Linked DNA regions of Homo sapiens: region 1 is linked to region 2. The links come from fine-mapping of genetic effects on gene expression. A gene starts in region 2. The other region holds a variant in brackets. All regions are shown on one strand. Distances are between the middles of the regions. Region 1 overlaps GMDS (GDP-mannose 4,6-dehydratase). Region 2 holds the start of GMDS (GDP-mannose 4,6-dehydratase).

Region 1 (5,377 bases), 530 kb before region 2:
CATGCCACCAGGTTTCCGGAAGACCTTGGTTCCACGATACCAATACCAGCCATGATGGCCATTCACTGAGTAGAACTTATTTCTCACTTTGTAATTCAGAAAGTTTCAGAGTAGCAGAGAAACGCGTGTCATGGGGAAAGCCAGAGAACTGAGTGTCTTTTATGCTAGGTGACACTTTGTTCCACAAATATAGCCTCAGAGTGGGTAAAGGAAAGATGGTGGCTGACAATGGGGCATTTCTTATGGAGGCTCAGAGCCGGCAATGCCTCCAGTTGGCAGTCGTACTCTCTTCAGACAGAAGCAACCTTGGATGCCTTTTGCATATGCATTATTGTTGATGCTGTCTGCCAAGACTTCAAGATACTATGAGATTTTCCCACAATGTGCATATGCTGTGGATGCCGGAGGCATCATGCCCTAGTGGTCTAAGGGTGGAGCCGGGCTGCAGTGGCTGTAATATGGCATCACCAGGTCTTCCTGTGGAGAGGAGCCAGGGAGCACATCTGGAGTGCTGAGCTTGTGTGAGACAGTTGGGATAGATCAACAAGAAAGGTGCAGAGGGAAGTGGAGAAACGAACAGAACCTATGAAAATAAGAGTTTCAGAACAGATGAAGAAAAAAGGAGAGAACATCAGCAGAAACATAAGGAGACAGGAAAGTGGCAGAAATGAAAGAATTAGTGAAAAGACATGTATAGAGGTAAAGCAATAGAAACGAAATATGACCTTTTCAAAGGTTGGATATACAAGTGTAAGTTGTGAGTGAACTTAACACTCATCTTGCCATGGAATCTCAAATAGAAAGAGGAACATTATTATTTTTATTCCCTTTGCTATTTAGTATAGTTTAGACTATTGCTCTCTAATAGTTTAATACACTGGTTTGAATAATTTTGGTTCTATCAGAGCTGGCTGTAAAGCATAAGAATGATTCTTTGGCAATGTGCACATTCATTCATTCTTTATCCCCTGACAATGTGCCAGGTCGTCTTCAAGGCCCTCCGATGTCATTCTTCCCCCAGGACCCCAGGTGGAAATGACCCATCACAATGCAATGGGATAAGCGGTAAGTGCTGACTGCCTGGGGGAACAGGTGCAGGCTGCACCAAGGAGCTGACACTTGTGCAGGGTCTTGTAACTAATATTGCATCAGTTTTTTCAACATGCCTATTGAGATCAGTGGGAAAATACTCATCGTTATGTTGTAGCAGGAAAAACAGAAGTAAGGAGAGGTTAGGAGCTTCTAGAAGACTTCAAAAGTTTGAGAGCTGGGAATAAAAGGTGTTGAGATACATACTTTAAAACTTATAATGCAAGCTAGTAGGACATATTCAAACTACCACTATACTTTTTAAATTTTAGAATTTCAATAAGGGACTATAGTACTTTCTAATCCTCCACAACAAAAACTGATTCAGAAACAAATACGTCTTATTAACTTCAATACCTTAGTAACTTGCCTTAGAAAAAATGACAAATTCCCCAAAATTCAAACAGCAGGTTTTAGATGACGATGTTAGGCACATTTTTCTCCACTGACCTCTTTTCAAAAAATAATAGAAACAGCCTGAATTTAAAATATACAGTGTCTTTCTAATACCACTGTGAAAAACATTCACACAGAATTAATTTCATTCTCAACAAAATCCCTGGAAAATAGGGAAACATTTCATTATGAAGTCGAAGAATATGTAAAAAAAGATTAAAAACATCTTTAGATTGGTTTTCTCTGAGTTACTGTTAAGGATCCACGTTTATGCTATAAACAAATCTCTCTCATGAAAGTAAGGCCTTCCCTATTCCTGGCTCTGCCTTTTAATCACTGAAACAGCTGGGAACTGTTTAAGAATTTGTCTCAAACACAAAACTTGTTTAACTAACTTAATGGAACAGGTGAGGAGACACTCTTCCAGAATTTGAACCCATCAGGGGTCAGATGGCAGGTATCAAAAGACAGATTAATGGTATCAGAATAGTGGCCATGTGGAGTTTAATGATGACATATGACTGGTTTTAAGACTCGTGACAGCAAGAAAGAAAAAGGCAAGAAAATAGGAGGTACAAATAAGAGGAGTGGCTAAGCTGCTGCACAGACAGGCTTGGAGGTGAGGCGGTGAAGAGGGGTGGCCTGCTGGCTGCGTGAGAGAAGGCCTGGCCAGGGCAGGGTGTGGTGATATTGGCTCTACCAGCCTTGCTTCTCAGGGTTCCCAGACTGGGCCACCCACCCACTCCACCTGACAGAGTCCCTGCCTATGTCTCTGTTCATGCGGCTGGTTCATTCCCACAGCACCTCCTGCCCCAATTGTGAATTCTTTCCCAGTTCTTACACCCCGTCCCCCAACTCTCTCTTTTAATTACAAATCTTTCCAAAGCCCTGCTCTAAAACTCCCCTTTATTAGGAAGCCTGTCCTTGTCCCTCAGGCTCAAGTACGACCTGTCCTCATTTCCAGTTGCCCAAATGTATCAGCGGTGTTTTCTGAGTGTGTACATTATGCAATTTTAAATAGATGATGCACCAGCGTCTTCCATTTTGGTTTAGTCCGCAAAGTGATTAACAACATGCTATCCATTCCATGGAAAACACTAGCCCAGCACCGGTTCCAAGTGATTAACTCAGTATTCCCTGCCAAGAGAAAATCTCACTGTCCAAGAACTCTGGAGCCTCAACAAGGAAGGTGGCTTTGCCAGCACCTTGATTTAGCTCAGTGGGACTCCATTTGGTCTTCTGACCTCCAGAACTGTAAGACAATGAATCTGGGTAGTTTTAAGCCACTAAGTTTGTGATTACTTGTTACATCAGCAATAGTAAACCAACATAGATTTTAGACTATCAAAGTGACACTCAGCTGGCTCTAGGGAGCAAGTACAAAGATGGGTTTTTGCAGACAGGTTTCCAAGGGAGGAGCATGGGGGGTGGTTGGCAGATAAAAGCAGATGATAGCCTGATGTCTTCCTTGGTGGCTGCTCTCTAGCCTACTGGGGATACTGCAGTTCTAGGAGGAGCTGTAGAGCTTGCTGGATCTCAGCGCCTGTCACACTCCCTTGAAACATACCGTTTAGGCAGAATCAGAAGTCGATCACCAATTCAGCATATCCCT[A/G]CCTTCCACCACGATCATCCTTTCTACCCCTGGGTCAAGAAGCACACAGCTGGCAGTACTAAGGAACAAGTAACTTTTTCTGCATGAAGATCTATAGGTATAAAACAAAATAAATATTTAAATAAAAAATGTCAGGAGTTGAAGAGCCCAAAGCATCCTTTCAGAAGATGTCTTTTGATAACTAATAATTTCACAAGAGTATATGATAATGATAATTAATAATGATGACTAATAAAATGACAATATGCAGCACAAAGTACCTTACACTTATAAAAGCCCTTTCATCTTTAAGAATTTGAAAATGCTTTGCAACCTGACTTCCAGGACATAGTGATTTGAAATTGGGTCTCTGCTTGCCCCCTGAAACTCAGTTTTTCTTGGATTGAGATGAAGTAATCATCTGCCAATTAATGTAACTCTTTGATATTAGCTCTTTACACATTAATCTGGCCCTATGGCTCTCAGATACAAGTGCTTAGTTTGTGTATGCTGTGAATTATTAACCTACTTTTTCAAAATATGTTTCTGAGACTTACCTCCTGGAATTCGAATTTGCCTGGCTCTGCGACCAGCTCCCTGTGCACACTCTTTTTCCCCCCTAGAAATGCTCCTTCAGGGAGTTTATGTATGTCAGGATTTCAGCTCTTGCACATCTTGCACATCTAGGCCCTAGCCCTGACCTCTTTTCTCTACACTAGGCCTCCAGCTCCAACTGCCTCCCTCATTTTGCAGCACAGATATCCCGAAGGCACCGGGAGTGTGACGGAACACCTCAACACCTCCCCCTGCAAAGTAAGTCTTCTCGCTGGATCTCTGATCTGGGTTCCAGCATCGTCACCTCCCCACTACCCTACATGGTTCAGCCTCTGTCCTGGGAGTCAACCTCAGCTCTGTCTTCTCTTCCACATGTCCTTAGTCCACTCTGATTCCATGGTCTCCATCTCTGCCATGTTCTGGCACCTGTCACTGTTTCTCTCGCCTGGGCTGCCCTGGTTCCGTGAGTCCCTCATTACACCCACCCCACCCCGGGCTGTCCCGGCAGCTTCGCAGCTGCTTCCCTTTCATCTGAGAGTTTCTATTGGACAAGGACCTTATCTCATCTATCTTTAAATTTCTTGGTGTTAGACTGGGACTTACCTCTACGGTAATGGAATGTTCAATAAACATTCTTTTCAAAATTGAATGTTAAAAACTCAACCATGTATTTTCATATATATACATATATATATATTTCATATATATATATTTTCTCATATATACTGATATATATCTGAGAAGCTGAAGGTAAATCAGAATTATATTTTAAATGTGCATGGTCAATGTACTATCTAAAATATTCCTGTAATAAATCCTAAAACCTGCAGAATCTTTTAGTACCTACACACAGTCACTTATTTTTTAGTTTGGATATTGTTACACCAGGTTTTCATGGGGGCAAGGCATACCTGATTTACTCAGGAAACTAGCAAATTGATGACAGCATTACAAAATGTACAAGGTAGATTTTGCTATTAAGGACAGTTCCTATTGCTGAGTAACAGCGGAATGAAACCAGGTATTTACTGATGGGCCAAACCTGGTAAGCATTTGTCTAGGAGGCAGATCAGAGCTACTAAGTTGGGACGGAAGCCCGTCAGTGGTGGACCTATCACCTTGGCAGTTAATGACAAAAGGAGCCAGACGAGTTTTTGCCTTTGCTACTAGATGTAACAGTGGATAGAGAAGCCGGCCTGGCATGAGCCACAGGTGTGGGCAGTGAGGTGGTGGGAGAAGGCATGCAGGGTGAGAAAGGTGGCGCAGAGCCCACGGTAGATGGGCATGACTACATTTCAGCCCCAGAATATTCTAGTGTCTGCAGAGCAACTGTTTTCAAGTAAAGAAGGTGCTGGGAAAACAATCAAATTTGATAAAAAATAATTAACTTTATCGAGAGCATGAGGCAGAACGGGGTGAGAGAAACCACAGGCAGTATTATCTGTGAAATCTCCATGAACACAGATTTTTGGATTGCTGTTATTTTGGAAGATAAATAAGGCTTGGTGGAACAGGAAGAGCACTGCTGATTTGTTTAAAAAAAAAAAAGAGAGAGGGATTTTTTAGATTTCCGAATACAGAGGTCATCGGCCAAAGATGAAAATAAAGATGGAACAGGTAATCACACCAGGGACGAATGGATCTCTCATAAGTAATTCTATTCTTTAGGTGATGTACTTCAGAGCTACTTTAGGTAGAAGTTGAGCTCAACAACTAATTGTTCCTCCTATGGAAAGTTGATGCAGA
Region 2 (5,377 bases):
ACTCCCATGACAGGCTGCAGGACAAACTAGAGTGGGGGCCCACTTCCATACCTTCCTGGCCACTCAGTTCCAGCCAAATGACTGCTCTTAAAAGTCAAAATTAGGTTCCATTTCTAATCTGCACTGATTCATACTGCTGGTCGTGTAAATTGGTATAGGCCACACCAACACAGCACATTAGTTAAGATGTTAATCTTAACTAATTTCCGGACAATACTAAAATAAAATCTCTACTTTCCAGAGATTAGGTAAACTTGGTAAACATTTGAGCTTCAGGTCCAGTCTGACAAAATGGAAAAAAGGGAATCATCTGCAGAAAGGTCCCAGCATTAGAAAACAAAGAGAAGGGGGAGGACAGTATGTAGGCCCTGACCTGTCTTACTGCCTCAATTCAAGGATTCAATTTCTCAACCTCAGATCCTTGCCCTCTTACTAGTTTTCAAACTCAGATCCACCTCTTACTAGTTTTCAAACTCTTGTCTATTATGATTACCTTAAGCAAAGCAAGATGCATGAATAACCAGCAGTAAATCAGGTATTCAATACTTGAAATTGTGTAATATTCTGTGACTGTGCATCTGGCCAATTTCAACTTCTCCTTCTTTTTTTTTTTTTTTTTTTTTTTTTTTTTTTTTGAGGCAGGATCTCACTCTCTTGCCCCAGGCTGGAGTACAGTGGTACCATCATTGCTCACTGCAGCAGCCTCAGACTCCCGGACTCAAGTGATCCTCCTGCCTCAGCCTCCTGAGTAGCTAGCACTACAGGTGAGCACCAACATGCCTGCCTCATTTTTTAAATTTTTTTGTAGAGACAACGTCTCAATATGTTGCCCAGGCTGGTCTCAAACTCCTGGCCTCACCTCGAGCAATCCTTCCACCTCTGCACACCGAAGTGCTGAGATTTCAAGTATGAGCCGCTGCCTCCTGCCCACTTAGCCCTTTCTAACACTAGAGAACTTTGAGAGTGGTTTCAATACCAACTGGACACTTCCCAGCGGTTTAACCTCAGGCAAATCAAACTCCCATGCCTCAGTTTCCACATATATAGAGATAATAAAAGTACCTCCTCAAAGAGTTTGTTATGAGAACTAAATGAGTTAATGTTAGGCAAGCGACTGGAACATGATAGACACAATATGTATTAGCCATTATCACCTTTATCTCAGTGTTATATTGGCCACCACCCAGAGATACCCAGGAGCACACACATCACATTCTTTCTACAGCAATATGTGGGCACGATTACTTCATGACCACTGAATCTAAAACAGCACAGCTTGGTAAGACACAGCGGTCGGATCCCACCTACTGCAACACCTCTAAGAGGCGACCCTCACAAACCAGCCATGCTTAGCCTGAGACATTCCGAAGACCTCCTCTTGATTACCTTACTCGACGAACTTATTCCTTTGAAAATGGAACTAGCCGCACTTTTGGACCAGTGTGCCTCGGATACACTTCCAAATGTGTCAACCTGAATCTCAGAAGTTGGCGTGATTTTAAAAAGTTTTTTAAGTTCTTTTTCCTAAACATGTCCTAGTAGGTGACTCCACAGCATTACTTTCTTTCATGTTCTCTTTTCTATCTGGAAATCCGGTGATAGGGGACGAAACCAGCAAAGCACCCTTTTTCTTGCTTCCCAAACGTTAGCAGGTAAGCGCCCCTTGAGCCGAGACACATCAAGAAGACCTCACCCGCAAGTTCATTGATCACCGGTTCTTTTCCCTTTCCGGCACTAGGAGCTGCGAAGCACGACATGGGCTTGGAGGAAGAGACGCTGCGGTCACCTGAGGGGCAGGTGAGAGCGGGCGGTCCTGCCCGGGTGTGAGCGCGACATCCCGCGCGGCACACACGCTCACAGCCCCCAGAGAAAGACCAGAGGCGCTCGATGTATCCCGCACACCCCACACGCAACACACTAACTGCACCGTACCTTCCGTCCCACCTCCCGGCAGCAGACCCCTTCCGGGACGCCGAGAGGGCTGTTCCTGGAGAGACCGCAGCCCACGAGTAGCGGCGCGTAGGGAGAGCACGCGTGCCCAGGCTGCCTCGGCCGGCGCGCCCCCGCCCCCGCACTCACCTGGCCTGTGATACCGGTGATGAGCGCCACGTTCCTGGGCTTGCCCATCTCGCCGTCCCCGGAGCCCCGGGCGCTGGGGCAGCGTGCCGGTGCGTGTGCCATGTCCCGCGGCGGGCGTGCGGTCGGCGGCAGGGCGGAGCGCGGCAGAGGGCAGGCGCGGTGCCGGCAGGAACGCGGGGGTGTGCAGCACGAAGCGCCTCTCCAGGCTGCGGGCAGGGAGGGAGAGCGCACCGCGCGACCGGCCGCCACAGTCTGACAGGGGCGCACGGGAGGCCGTGCAGGGAGGGCCGGGGGCGGGCCGAGCCGGCCAAGGCGGGCCCGACGGGCCAAGCAGCGGGGCTGCGGCCTGACTGGCGCAGCGTCATTCGCGTCAGCCGGCGACGCTGTAGCAGGCCCCGCCCCTCCGCCGACGGCCACCGCGCGGGAGGGGCGGGGCCTGCCGCCGCCACCGCCTCAGGGAAGAGGAAGGAGGCCGCGGCTTCGCGTCCCGCCTCTCGCCTGGCTGGCCGTGGGGGGCCTGGACGCAGTGGCCTCCCGAATCTCCCAGGACCCTAATATCGCCCGAGGATGCTGGGAGGAACGCTGAGCCGACCTCTCCGTTAGGCTGAAGGTCTGAATTTTCAAACCCAGGGGTCACAGGGCCGGGGTCATGGACTTTGATAAATAATTCCTGGAAACCTGTTGCAGTGCCCTTTGAGAAGCCCGGTTTATGGTACCTGAAGGGCAGTAGCGTACAAGGCCCGTAAACGGGGGTCACAGATGTGGGAGTGACTAACTAGGCTGGCTCTCGCTCTTCTGGCCTTTCCTGAGGCTCGGAACCAGTAACGAGGTTCCAAATAGCTGAATTCAAAGTTTTCTCTTCTGAGGACTGCCAGTGCACAAGAAAGTCCCTAGCCCCACCCGTATGCGGCATAAGGAAATGTTGAAAAGACTGCCCGGGTCAATAAACCTGGACGTGGCAGATTTCAAAGAAAGTAATTCAAACACAGGTGGGGTCCCGGCTTACATCTGTTGGATTTGGCTGCCATTTGGCAGCTGCTCGTTGGACAGGGAGAGGAGAGGAGGTGACTCAGAGCCGGGAGGGCAGCAGGTGTGTGTGCCTAAGCAGTTGGCTGCAATCCAGGACACAGACGGAAACTTCCCGGTCTCCGTTGCTCTGCTTCTCTGTCCACATTCCTCTCCCTAATCGATAACTTCAGATCATCATTTCAAATCACAGAGTTACTAGGGCTGTGCCCAATATAACGTGCAAGAGTATGTATAGCAGACCTGGAACCCCAAAATCAGAAAAGCTCAGGATTACATTTAAAACCTCCCTCTCGCGCTCCTCGAGGTCCGTTAGGAATATTTCTTAGCTATAGATAGACTGGTCTGGTTTCACACCTGGCCTCTCCTCTGCGTTCTATGAGGAGAATGGCTCAACAAACATCTGATGGTGCCTCTGAGTGATGAAGAGACCCTGAAGCTGAGGAGAGGGAACACTTCCATTGAGAGGAACATGCTATAAGCTAGAAATGTCTGTGAAATATACGGGAATATGCTAAAACTATACTCATTTTCATGTAAATACGCTTTAAATTAATGCATGAGCCAATTATTTAACATTTTCCTTAAAAAAATCACTGAGCAAGCCGGGCGCAGTGGCTCACGCCTGTAATCCCAGCACTTTGGGAAGCTGCGGCAGGTGGATCACCTGAGGTCAGGAGTTCAAGACCAGCCTGGCCAACACGGTGAAAACCCGTCTCTACTAAAAATACAAAAAATTAGCCAGGCGTGGTGGTGGGCACCTGTAATCCCAGCTACTCTGGAGGCTGAGGCAGAAGAATCGCTTGAACCCGGGAGGAGGAGGTTGCAGTGAGCCGAGATCTTGCCATTGCGTTCCAGCCTGGGCAAGAAGAGCAAAACTCCATCTCAAAAAAAAAAAAAAAAAATCACTGAGCAAAACTGATACTTATGGGAGATATGACACATTTATCCTGTAGTTTTGAGACCTCCTATCACACAAACACTGGAAGTTGACACCAGTCAATTTCCTGTCACACCACCAAACACCTGCCCTAGAAGTGTGTGACAGTAGAAGAAAAATGGAAAAAAAATCAACATTATTAGGGCCTGAAAATATTTATAAAATGATGGGAAATGGTAGGTCAGAGGAAGCTTGAAGAATAAAGGCTATTTCTCTAGAGAACTTTTCTGAAGACAGGTGGTAGGTCTGCTACAGCAACGTACCATCCATAGGGTGACAAACGATAGAAATTTATTTCCTCACAGTTCTGGAGACTGGAAGTTTAGGATCAAGGGCTGATTTCTTCTGAGGCCTCTCTCCTTTTCTTGTAGCTGGCTGTCTTCATGTTCACATGGCGTTCTCTCTGTATGTGTGTCTGTGTCCAAACTTCCTGTTCTTATAAGAACACCAGTTACATTTGATTAGGACCCTCTTTAATGACCTTATTTCCAAATACAGTCACATTTTGAGCTACTAAGAGTTAAGACATCAATATATTAATTGGGGGAGGGACAAAATTCAACCCATGATTGACAGCTAGAGGGAAAAAGAGGTTCTTTTTTTTAACTGTTTGTGGGCTCGGAGGGAGGAGGTTGGTAGTGGAGGTTGTTGTCATTTTCCCAGTAGCATTAGGGCAACTTGAACAACGTCAGCACAGGGTCTGGGGCAGCATAAGAAGATTACATTAACTAGAAGTAAAGCGACCAGCGGTAGTGGAAAGCTCTAAGGGTGATGGCTCAGTTGTGTTTTCCTCTAACACAGTTCTCATCCCTGGGTGATTTTGCCCCCAGGGGACATTTGACAATGTCTGGAGGCATTTTTGATTGTCACAAATGGAGTTGTGCTATAGGTATCTAATGAGTAGAGGTTAAGTATTTTGCTCACCATCTGCAGTGCACAGGAAGCTCCCACAACAAAGATTTTTCTAGCCCAAAATGTCAATAGTGCTGAGGCTGAGTAACCCTTCTCCAGGAGGCCAGTGAAAGATGTTAACAAGCGGGTGGTTGAACTGACAGACACTGGCTATACTATACAGTGACTTCATGGTATGTCAGAAGAAGCAAATACATTTGGTAGCTAATTGTTGATGCTGATACCTTTACTCACAAACTTGGCTAATCTCCAGAAACATACTAGCTGCTGAGGGTATAGCAGTAGAGGAGAAATAATCTTCAAGGGGCTATAATCTGAAAGGGATATGATATTGAATCATTTTATGACTTTTCATAACATTTTCATATTTGTTTTAATATGATACAAAATATAGAGAAAAGAGTGAGGCCTCCAACTCCA

Evidence for each region.
Region 1: its variant is fine-mapped to the expression of GMDS in whole blood (TOPMed, PIP above 0.99).

The regions. Positions count from the first base shown.
Region 1 is chr6:1,714,456-1,719,832 of GRCh38, forward strand. All of the region lies in intron 9 of GMDS (GDP-mannose 4,6-dehydratase), which reads right to left. Among named protein-coding and RNA genes, the nearest start is that of FOXC1, 110 kb to the left of the region's middle. The variant A/G (reference allele first, on the strand shown) is at 3,098.
Region 2 is chr6:2,243,242-2,248,618 of GRCh38, forward strand. GMDS (GDP-mannose 4,6-dehydratase) reads right to left here and starts at 2,364. Exons shown (of 11, transcript NM_001500.4): 1 at 2,080-2,364. The coding sequence starts at 2,181. GMDS-DT (GMDS divergent transcript) reads left to right here and starts at 2,512. Exons shown (of 7, transcript NR_046229.1): 1 at 2,512-2,689. RefSeq lists an enhancer at 2,006-2,506 and a silencer at 2,007-2,636.